Regions from separate parts of the Homo sapiens genome. Here region 1 is linked to region 2. Evidence: fine-mapped expression QTL. Tissue or cell type: whole blood. Region 2 holds a variant in brackets; the other region holds the start of a gene. All regions are shown on one strand. Distances are between the middles of the regions.

Evidence for each region. PIP is the estimated chance that this variant, and not a neighbour inherited with it, causes the effect.
Region 1: RAB33B-AS1 starts here. The variant in region 2 is fine-mapped to the expression of RAB33B-AS1 in whole blood (TOPMed, PIP above 0.99).

The regions. Positions count from the first base shown.
Region 1 is chr4:139,450,840-139,456,879 of GRCh38, reverse strand. It overlaps RAB33B-AS1 (RAB33B antisense RNA 1), which reads left to right and starts at 2,839. Exons shown (of 1, transcript NR_159964.1): 1 at 2,839-5,205. It overlaps RAB33B (RAB33B, member RAS oncogene family), which reads right to left and starts at 2,759. Exons shown (of 2, transcript NM_031296.3): 1 at 2,436-2,759. The coding sequence starts at 2,684. RefSeq lists enhancers at 2,462-2,511, 3,132-3,471 and a silencer at 2,732-3,061.
Region 2 is chr4:139,073,478-139,079,517 of GRCh38, reverse strand. ELF2 (E74 like ETS transcription factor 2) reads left to right here. Exons shown (of 10, transcript NM_001331036.3): 5 at 5,951-6,040. Among named protein-coding and RNA genes, the nearest start is that of NOCT, 61 kb to the right of the region's middle. The variant A/G (reference allele first, on the strand shown) is at 3,003.

The DNA of each region.
Region 1 (6,040 bases), 380 kb before region 2:
AATAAAGCTCTTTATATCACTTTTCAGTTTTCGAAAAAAAGGGCACTAAAAAAAATTAAGCTCTGTGGTTTTAAAAAATGCCCAACATAGCTATATCTTTTCCTACTATAGAAACCTCAGAACATGTCTGTAGTCATTTCAACCACAATAAAAATCTCTCTCAAGTCTCACCATTGGTGGCACAAATCAACGGCTAGGGCCTTAGAAGAAAAATGATCTCAGTATTCAAGTCCATATCAATGTAACAAGTTAGGCTAAAGTTCAGTAGAAATAATCTCCCCAAAAAATATCATCTCCTTGCTCTTCCCAACCAGAATTATCAACTCTGTGCTCCCAGATTCGTCATACCTGTGGTTCTGTCTTATTTATCACTGCCAGCACTCACCTCAGTAGTTAGGTAATTGACTTTATACACTGCACATGCTTTATATTTTTTCAATACTATTATCTCTTAAATTTGCACCTGATTCATCTGTTATCTTTAAGTATAAATGGCAACCCAGGAACAGATAAAGGGCCCTCAAATCCCAACTCCTCCCCCACCCTCATTCTCTCCACTTTTGAAAGAATTTCCTACTTCCGTTTTTGTTTTTGTTTTGTTTTTTAAATTTCTCTCCCCTTAGCTGTCTACCTATGCCCTCCACTATCTCTGCTTTCAACTTTGGGTGTACAACTGCAGAACTAATGGTGGCAAACAGGAAAAATAATGTTAAGCCACCAGGAAAGACAAAGAATCTTTTTAAAGGCACCAACTATGAACCAGGTGCTTCATATATGTCCTCATCTGATCCTCACAGCAGCCTGATAAGGTATCATGATCCCAGTTTTTCGGAAGAAAAATACAGACTCTGAGAGGTTAAAGAATCTGCCTAAGGTCCAGGGTGACCAACTATTTTGGTGTGCCCAATACAGGGGGTCCCCGGGATGTGAGACCCAGTTTTAAAACCTGGACAGTCTTGGGCAAAGTTGGTCACCCTAGTAAGGACACGCAGCCCATCCCTACCCTTTCGTAGGTTCAGATATGAATCCAGGTTAGTTGGGCTCCAAAGCCCACGTACTTCCCAGATTCCTGCTTCTCCCAATCTTAACTCCCTTGGAACTTCAGAAGCTCCATTATTTTTCACCCCAAAGGCTTCTGGGCCAAACCTAATTCTGGTGAAAAATGTTTAGCCTTTTATTCTATCTTTTCTTCTGCAAGTATACAAATCTTTCTAAATTCCCTAATACAAAGCAACTCCAAAACCACCACTGAGAGCTCATATGGGACATGAAATACTAATGTGAAAAATTAAAAGACAGAAGCACCAAAGAAAGGTTAATTTCTTTTAACCCAGCTTACTTCACCTCTACCATCATTAGCAGTATAACCCGTTGGGGTGGGGGGCGATGATTAGGGAACTGAAAAATAAATTGTTCTTGCCTCTAAGATACGAGGGTAGGAACGTCTAAAGCAAGCCTGTTCTCCCACCACTCCCCATCCCCACCAAGAGACTGAGATAAAGACGATCGCTGATTTAAAGCAGTAGTATAAGGCAAGGTGGTTCCACCTATGTTTTAAGGAGTGGCATCAACAGGTGGCATTTAGTGGTGGCTTGCTATGAAGGTGTGTCTAAGGTTTATACCATCAAGAGGCCTAAGCCTTGTCATTGATCCTCATTCCACTGTTAGATTCCAACCCCTCAGAACTTCAAACCTGCCCTGGGGCCTATACTACCTTCTCCACTATTACTGTCACTCAGTGTCCCCAGTCCCAGGGACCAAAAATAACGACTTAAAGGGAATAAAGAATTGGGCGTGTGTCTGAGGTGGCATCATGAGAAATGCTTTTGGCAACCTGAGTAGGAACTATCACATATAGAATGTTTCTGCAGGAAAATAGATTTTTCTAAAATCAGTATCATAAAGAAACTACTACAGCAAAACTGTATGCAAGAGAATACCTAAGTACTTCCTCAAAGGCAATAGGCTTTACTTCCACAACATCTAAGGCACTGCTCGAATGAATGTTTAATAACTATTACTGATTAAATGAATTTTCCATTCTCGCGCAATTTCACTGTTTTTCCTCCGTTCATATTTGACTGACTCCCAGCACACGACACACACAGTAAATGGGTCGGTAGATAAGCCCTACACTCCTGAACTCAAAGTGTGGTCCACGGACTAGCTGCACCTGCATCATCAGCGAGATTATTAAATCATAGCCTGCATTTTCAAAAACAAGATCCCCAGGTAAATCGCATGCACAATGAAGTCTGAGAAACGCTGCCTTAGAAGTTTGCAGTATTGCAATCCTTCCAATCCCCAACTCCAATCTCATCAGCGTGAGAAAAAAATGGAGCGCACACACACCGTGCACACGGCCAGCGACCAGCCCACGGTGGGGTTGGGACACCTGTCACCCTGTCCTCCCCAACAGTTCCCCATCCGCTCACCTTGATGCGCTCCCCATCAATCTCCACCGCTCGTTCTCGGAAATCCACCCCTATCGTGGCCTCGGTGCGGTCGGGGAAGCGGCCAGCGCAGAAGCGGTAGGTCAGGCATGTCTTGCCCACATTGGAGTCGCCGATCACGATTATCTTGAAGATGCGGGAGCGGGCAGGAGGCAAAAACCCTGAGGCCCCTGACACTGCCCCGCTGGACGAAAAGCTTGCCTCGAGCGACGACTCCATCTCCTCAGCCATTCCCCCGACCCGCCCCAAACTGAGGCGGAGGAAAGGAGACACAGAAAGGCTGAGAGATTACGCCACCGCAAGAGCGCGCGCCCAGCCGGCCAGTTCGGCTGCGCAACTTCCCAGGAGCCACCGCCCACCAGCCCCGAGCGCGCCTGCGCACCTTCCCGCCCCGCCCTTGCCCGCACAGGTGTGGCACCCGCCCGCCCCGCCGCACGGAGCCGCCTGCCCGCGGCCACACGCCAGGCGTCACTCGGGCTGGCGCCGGTCTACCTAGGCAGGCGTGGGACCTGTCGGGGGCTTCACGGCAGCGCGGAAGGCCAGCCTGCAGAGAGGCTGGGCCCAGCGCCCTGACTGACCCAGCCCCGCCACGTCCAAGGTTCCCGCCCTCTGGAGGAAGCCGCGCAATCACTCCGGGGGCGGGGAGAGACAGACAACTGAGAGGAAGGAGGTACCACGGGCACTCTCTCGCGAGAGGGCCGCAGAGCCGCCTTTGACGGGGGCGTGTACCTGGAGAGCAACGGTAAGGACGGAGCCGACGGCTCCGGCGTCGGGTCGGTTCCGGCATCGACGTATCGTTTGGTCGCCCCAGAGAGGAGACAGGTTTCTTCAGCTTGCCGCTGAGGATGTGGCATCGGCTGCGCTCACCGCCGCCGCCTCTGTGAACTGCGGGAGTTGGGACAGCGGCCAGGGCTAGATGGGTGGGACGCGAGTCCTCGCCGAAAGCTTGCCCTGTGCGGGGCGCACTTGGAGGCGAGCTCTGGGCCGTGGCGAGTTTTGCAGCCTAAGGTCTTGGCAGGCGCATTGCTGTGGGCTGCCGGAGAGCAGGCTGGAGTTCGAGACCGCCCACCGGAGAGCAGGCGAGAGTTCGAGGCCTAGGTACAGCGCATTTCGCTAGGCATCCCCAAGAATATCCGCGTGATCCTTGTGGCCAGAGTTTGTTGAGCTAATATCCCCAGCCCAAACAGTAGAGCACATCACATGTCGGCCACCTGGGAGCGTTGAACCTGGTAGTTACTAGGCGCCCCTGGTGGAAATAAAACTCATTATGCCCTAGTTATGTCTTAGTGCCTGGGTGACGATGATGTAGCGGTTAAAGATTAACTGAGCGCACTTAGAGGTTGTCTTTGTCTACCTAAGGAAAATATCAATAGATTAAACCCCCAACCTTAAAGAATCTCCGTGAATTTTTCTGAGGAAACGTGCAATATTGTCATACAAAAGGCCCCAAATATGCAAACATTGCTTTTTGTTAAAAGTTTGTTTTGTTTTGCAGTGACATCTGTTTGAGCAGATGAATATGCCATTGGGAAAGTCAAGGACTGTCGGAGAGGAGGACATGGCAGACCTTAACTAAAGTGAGGGGGACAGTAGAGCACTAAAAGTTCTAGGAAAGGAGATGAACTGCTTATTCCATCAGATGAAAATATAGTCAGAACAGATGAGTAGTAGAACTTAAACATGCCCGGAGTTGCCAGGAATTTGCAAAAGCCTTGATATAATTCCTGTTGCTGTAGAAAGACTTTCTACAGTCACTAATATATCAAGTTATGTTCACTAGAAAAAAAGTTTACTTAGTTTATAGAAATGGGCTGAAAAATCCTAATTACTTATCTGTGAGGTTATTTTCATGAAGGTTAATCATCCAGAAACTATTAGAGAGCCTCGGAATATATTTCTTCTAATCTGCTCTACCTATCCCATTCAAAGGAGGGAATCTGAAGATTTAAGGACAAAGAGCAGTTGAAAACTCAGAGCTGTGGTTAATGGGAGAATTTCAAGGATGGTGAAAAAAACTAACATCATTGCATCCCTGTTTTTTGTATTCTGGACTTTTTAGTTTAGCTCTTGGTAAACTACATCAGAAATTCTTTATGCTAACTCTAACACACATTTTGGGGTATTGCTAATTTAATCTTTGAATACTGTTTTTGCTGTTTCATGATTATATGTTATGTCCTACCAGCTAGATTGCCAACTCTTGACTACTGACTGGAAGTTTATTGTTTATTCAGCAAATAATGAATTAAGTCAGTGAAGTGAGAGATTTCGTGTGTAAGGATTGTTAACTTGAACATTTCACCAGTTACACACAGTTCAGCCCTACTTAAATTTTAAAAATCATTGTTGGCACTTGACATTGTTATGAGGAGTTTTGTATTTTCAACTTGTATTTTGAGAGTGTCCTCATGTGACTGAAGTATGTGCTACTCTTCTTAATTGAATAACCCCAGAATCTCCAGAATTGATAATTGGAGGAAATTCTACTGTTGGAAAGAATGGATGGATTATACAGCCCTGTTTTTTGACTGTTCATTTTGTCCTTGGAGTCACTACCACTTGGCCTCAAAGTGTGAACATGTAACCCTTTCCTTAATACTTTGCTACACAGCTGAGCAGAAACTGTAAATTTGGATCCTTTGTCAGTACAACTTAAAATGGAACAATTTCAATGGCTTAGGGTAAGATAAGTATGTAAAGATACTTTTGTAATAGAAGAAAAAACATTGGATATTAAAATCACACAGTAGTACCTGGGTGTGGTGGCTCATGCCTATAATCCCAACGCTTTGGGAGGCCAAGACAGGAGCACTGCTGGAGGCCAGGAATTTGAGACCAGCCTGGCCAACATGGTGAAACCTCGTCTCTACCAAAAAATACAAAAATCAGCCAGGTGTGGTGGCACATGCCTGTAATCCCGGATACTCGGGAGGCTGAGGTGGGAGAATCGCTTGAACCAGGGAGGTGGAGGTTGCAGTGAGCTGAAATCGCAAAACTGCACTCCAACCTGGGCAACAGAGTGAGACCTCCTGTCTCCAAAAAAAAAAAAAAAAAAAAAAAAAAGTGGGTGTGGTTGTGTACACCTCTACTTCCTGCTACTCAGGAGGCTGAGGCTGGAGGATCTCTTGAGCCCAGGAGTTCAAGTCTGCAGTGAGCTATAGTTGCACTGCTGCACTCCAGCCTGGGTAGCACAGCGAGACCCCCATCTCTAAAACATAAAAGTAAACAGGCTGGGTGCAGTGGCTTACACCTGTAATCCCAGCACTTTGGGAGGCCGAGGAGGGTGGATCATGAGGTCAAGAGTTGAGACCAGCCTGGCCAACGTGGCGAAACCCCATCTGTACTAAAAATACAAAAATTAGCCAGTCGTGGTGCCAGGTGCCTTTAATCCCAGCTATTCAGGAGGCTGAGACAGGAGAATCGCTTGAACCTGGGAGACAGAGGTTGCAGTGAGCCAAGATCATGCCATTGCACTTCAGCCTCGGGGACAAGAACAAGACTGTGTCTCAAAAAAAAAAAAAAAAGTAGAAAACAGAATAGCATAAGGATAATCTTATATACAAAATAAGACTACTCAATTTCTGAAT
Region 2 (6,040 bases):
GCGCTTCTCAAAAACCAAACTCTCTGACCCGGATTCTGGGAGTCCCAAGAGCCTTTCACAGGATCTGTAAAGACAAAACTGTTTTGAAAATAATACTGGGACATTATTTGCCTTGTCACTTTCAAAAGTGTACAGAGGAGTTAGGAGCTATGTATAGATGGGTTATTCCAATAGATTGAAAGAGGAAGGAGAATTCAGCTGCCTTCTATTGAATCAAGTATAATAAGATTTGCAAAAATGTAAAAAACAAAGCTACTTACTTTTTGTTTTTTATTTTAAGTTATTTTTGGCCAGGCATGGTGATTTATGCCTGTAATCCCAGCACTTTGGGAGGCCAAGGCAGGAGGATCTCTTGAGTCTGGGAGTTTGAGACCAGCCTGGACAACATAGTGAGACCCTCGTCTCTAAAAAAAAAAATCAAAAAATTAGCTGGGTGTGCTGATGCGTGCCTGTGGTCTCATCTACTTGAGACGCTGAGGTAGGAGGATCACACCCCAGGAGATCTAAGCTACAGTGAACCATGATCATGCCACTGCATTCCAACCTGAGCAACAAAGCGAGACCTTGTCTCAAAAAACAGTTATTTTTCATAAAAAATGTTATTTATGGTTGCAGTAATGGGTGTATTATTTTAAATGAATTAATAATTTTGAAGTTTTCTTTGTAATTTCAAATATGATAAATACAGATAAAATCTCGAGGTCTTCAGTATTTTGAGTGTAAAAGTGTCCTCAGATAAAAAAGGTCGGAGGATAGCTGAATTACAGTGTTGTTTAGGTCTGTACTGTATGGTAGCCACTAGCCGCATGTATCTGAGTACTTAAAATGTAGCTAAGAAACTCAATTTTTAATTTTAATTAATTTAAACTTAATTTCTGGCTGATCTCATCTTGCAGAGGGCAGTTCGCTCTCCCCCTCCGAGAGTGTAAAAAAAAAAAAAAAAGAATTGCCATTCTTTTTCCTTTTTATACTTTATAATGCAAGTATATTGATTAAAAGGTCAAGGGGGAAAAGGTGAAGATGGAGTATTCCAGACCTTTAATTACCTTTTCCCCCTTTTTATTGCCTTCATTTGTATTCTTCATTTACCTATTACTGGTATAGCTTTGGGGCATTAGAGGATAAGTAGTGGTAAATCGGGTGCTGCAGTTGACTGAAGACCTTGTACTATTAGTTTATAGTGTTGCTTATAGGAGAATACCACTATCACCTAATGAAGTGTTTTCTAATTTTTTTTCACTGCTCTCAAACTAAATTGCTACTAAATTTTATTTTTGACTTGAGAACATTTTTATGAACTAGATCCATTGCCAGCATTCTTTTATGCAAAGCTGAGAGGTATGCCTCTTGTCAGACTTAATTACCAAGTTTGGTATTTTGTAACAGCTGTTGAGTGAGTCTGGAATAGTCTTCAGTACCATACAAACACCGGTTGATTAGAAAGATAGAAATGGAACAAGAAGATATTTACCAATATTAAATGAAGGTACAAGCAAATATTATTTTTGGTACTGTAATAAAAAGTAAAACAGTTCTTGAAATTTATTTCAAGGGGGATTGACCAGCAATAGCCACTACCAGTGGTAACTAGAAAATGATACCTGTCAGACTACTTTTAGCTTCATTGTTTCTATTTTTAAAATGAGTTATTTATTTTTCCTTCTATAAATTTCATAGATGTAGAAAGATACCAGTAAGTCAAGTTTTAAGTAAGATAAGGAATTCTACTTTTCAGCTCTTGCTTGTAGCTTGCTTACTTTGATTGCACAACACTGTTAAATTCATGCTTATTCTTAAATGTGCAAAATTATAGTTTAAATTTTATTTGAATTATTGATCTGAACAAAATAGTATTTTTTTTTTAATTACAGACACAAGTAGGAGAAATATTTCTTAAATTTCTGTTAAAAGTTACTTGACTTATGTAAACAAAAATAAAAAGATAGTGCTCACTTTTACAAAATGTGTTAAGTTTTGGAAACTGGCATTAGTACATTATTGTAAATTGATCTGAGAACAGCCTCTTAGATTTTTGTATTTTGCATTATTTTAGTTAGTAAATAAAAATGATGAGATAAAATTAGTAAGCAGTAAAAAAGTAATCAGTGTTCCTCTTAACATGCTTGTAACTTACAAAGTAAGTTTATTTTACATTTTTATTTAGTTTTGAAATATCTTCCATTTAATGCTCTCTGAACTGTAGATTGAGTGTTCTAAAATCTGAAACTGAGCACTGATGTGACACTCGAAGTGCTCATTAAAGCATTTTGGATTTTTAGATTTGGGATGTTCCACTGGAAATATATAGTGCAGATATATATTTTTTTAAATTCGAAATCTGAAACACTTCTGGTCCTAAGCATTTTGGATAAGGCATGCCCAACCTATAGTAGTATAAGCTTCATGAGGCCAGAAATCTGTTCACACTTGTGTCAGGTTTATAGCACAGGGTCTGGGCACATGGTAAATGTCAGCAACGATTTGTCAGTTGTACGTAGAGTATTAGATCTTCTGGCTGATAACTTCATAGGTAATTTATGCATATTTTATGTTGTCATCGTAAATTTAAAGTATGAATGAGTAAATTTTCTAAGTATGTATTTTACTCTGTAAATATAAAATATTTCTGAGATATAATATGTTGAATTTTAGGGGGGAAGGGGAAGTTGAGGTCAGAAATATGTGCAAGAATTACACCTTGAAGAAGTAATTTCCATTGACATAACAATTTTAATAACACAAAATCATGGTTTTGAAAATGTGCCTCAAACTATGTAAGAATTCAGGGCACGTAATATGTAACTGTTAGGCAAATTTCATTTTGTTTATAACTTGAAACATTAAAAAAACTGGTAAAATTCTCTTGCTGTATTATTATTGAATACTTGAAGCTCTGATTTTAATATGGTAAAGTTTTAGGGTGTGTCTTAATACAATTACATAAGGAATTAGTTTGCCCAGGATAGTTTATTAATAGCACCTAAGACAAGAGCTAAATTGCA[A/G]CACAAGCAGACTTTAAAGAGAATGCTTGCTAGAATAAATTTTAAAAACTGGAGAATTGAAGGTTTTTTTTTTTTCTTAGTGTATGTGAGTATTGTAGGGAGGCACTTTGAAAACAATAATTGAGAATGATAATATGTCTTATACTTAATAATGCTAAGTTTTCTTAAAGTTGAGCTACACAGGCTGATTGAATCCTTTGCTTCAGTGAAGCTGCAGATAAGAGTAAGCAGGGTCACCTAAAGATAGATTTACTTAGAGGTTTGGCTGCCTCTCTGGAACCATTTAGCTTTGAACAGATTTCCATAAATGGAAAGAGCAACTGGAGAGACCCAGTACCTTGTGGATGATGTGCAACAGGTGGTAAAACAGTCATTGGATTTTTAAAATAAATGCTTTCCAAATGACTGTTGTTTAAGACTGAGGCTTTAGCATTTAGGGAACTTTGAGATGAACTGGATTTTTTCCCCCAATTAAAAGTTTCCTGGAAACAATTTTAAAAGATTCATATCGTTAGTGTATAGTGCTTATGAATTTGTAATATGACTTTATGAAATTTGTATAAACATTTACTTTTAGTTCCTTTAGGGGACATCTTAAAAAAAATCTGTCAAGTTAGAGACTCTTAAATATTCATGTTTCAGAACGTCTTACTAAGTTAACTGTTCAACATTTTAAGTCAGGATGTGAAATTAATATATTATTAAGATAATAAAATTTGTTCTTGAATTGCTGATTTTCTTGTAAGGTCAGTGGGTTGTCCTTAATTCAGTACATAAAATAAATACCTGCCTGGCGTGATGGCTCATGCCTGTAATCCCAGCACTTTGAGAGGCCGAGGCGGGTGTATCACCTGAGGTCAGGAGTTCAAAACCAGCCTGGCCAACATGGTGAAACCCCGTCTCTACTAAAATACAAAAATTAATCCGGTATGGTGGCATGTGCCTGTAATCCCAGCTACTCAGGAGGCTGAGGCAGAAGAATCGCTTGAACCTGAGAGGTGGAGGTTGCAGTGAGCTAGATCATGCCACTGCACTCCAGCCTGGGCAACAGAGCGAGACTCCGTCTCAAAAAAAATAAAAATAAAAATCCGCATGTCTGCTCCATGAAAAGTCTATGTTGGGAACCATGGCATATGTAAAGATGGGTTAAGCTAGCCCCCCAGACCTCAAGAAGTTTATAATCTTACAGGAATGATAAGAAATTATCATATTCTTGCTCTATGAGAGAGATTAAGTTGCTTACCTCAGGTAACAGAAATAAGTGGCAGAGACTGGAACCCAAGCTGTTGGACCTGAAAGCCCAAACCACTGACTGCTGTACACATTGTTTTACAAGTAACATAATCAGCAAAGCATAAAGGAAGTGCTAGAAGAGGAGAGATACAAAGCGTGGTAGAATTTGAAGGCCTCATGGGAAGAATAAACTCTAAGAAAAAGTCTTAGGTTAAAACCCACTGAGGCTCTGAAGAGAGCGAGGTTAATTATAAAGAAAGTTCTCAAGTACTCTGGCAGTAAATATAATGCATGTTGTTATCCATCTTTAGTCACCTCTGCCTGGAGAGTACAGTTGTCCCTCAGTATACCTGGGGTATTGGTTCCAGGATGTCTCCTCCACCTGGCAGATACCAAAATCCTAGAATGCTCAGTCAAGTCCCTTATACAAAATGCTGTAGTATTTACACTGTATTTTTAATTGTTGTATTTTTTTTATTGCCTCCCCCTCCCCTGCAATATTTTCTTTTTGTTTTTTTTTTTTGAGACAGTGTCTCACTCTGTCGCCCAGGCTGGAGTGCAATGGTGTGATCTTGGCTCACTGCAACCTCCGCCTCCCAGGTTCAAGCGATTCTCCTGCCTCAGCCTCCTGAGTAGCTGGGACTACAGGTGCCCGCCACCACGCCCGGCTAATTTTTATGTTTTTGATAGAGATGGAGTTTCACCATGTTTGTCAGGATGGTCTCGATCTCTTGACCTCGTGATCCGCACGCCTTGGCCTCTCAAAGTGCTTACAGGTGTGAGCCACCACACCCGGCCCCCCTGCAATATTTTCAATCTGAGGTTGTTTGACTCTGCTGATGCGGAACCCTTGGACACGGAGGGCTTACTCTACTCAGTCATTCAAGAGGGTCTGTAAGAATTGAATTAATTGATTAAATTAGCGCAGCATGGTTCTGTTAGGTGCCCTGGCTTTAATGGCAATACATCAAAATATATAATTGCCCTCACAGGGTTTTTAATCTACAACCAGCCTCTCCCTGACCCTTCCTCCCTTCCCACAAGTTAGTATTGGCCTAAAATTGATGCAGGGTTCAAATTTCAAGGATCTTTCTTTGTTTTCCTTTGAGTAAGATTCAGAAACTTCTCAGTAATTTCTTTTGTTGTTGTTGTTTTGAGACAGAGTCTCACTCTGTCGCCCAGGCTGGAGCGCAGTGGTGCGATCTCAGCTCACTGCAACCTCTACCTCCTGGGTTCAAGCGATTCTCCAGCCTCAGCCTCTTGAGTAGCTGGGATTACAGGCATGTGCCACCACGCTCAGCTAATTTTTCTATTTTTTGGTAGAGACGGGGTTTCACCATGTTGGTCAGGCTGGTCTTCAACTCCTGACCAAGGTCTACCCTCCTTGGCCTCCCAGAGTGCTGGGATTACAGGCATGAACCACCATGCCTGGCCAACTTCTCAGTAATTTCTAATCAATGTCATTGGTTACTTCATAATCAATATTCATTTTATATCAGTATTCATTTTATAAAATGTAGATATTAGCTTTTTAAAAATTATTTCTGTAATTTATATAGACGAATAGATATCAATGGCTTAGAGTTAGTCATGTTATTTTATATTTATTTATTTTTCATTTCTCTTTCAGGAGTGAATATGTTTATTTCTTAGTAATATGTTTTAGTCATGTGTTTAGTGTATTTTTAATTGAGTAGAACTTATTTTTCCTCCAGTGGAAGCATCAGTTCACAGCAGTAATGCACACTGTACAGATAAGACAATTGAAGCTGCTGAAGCCCTGCTTCATATGGAATCTCCTACCT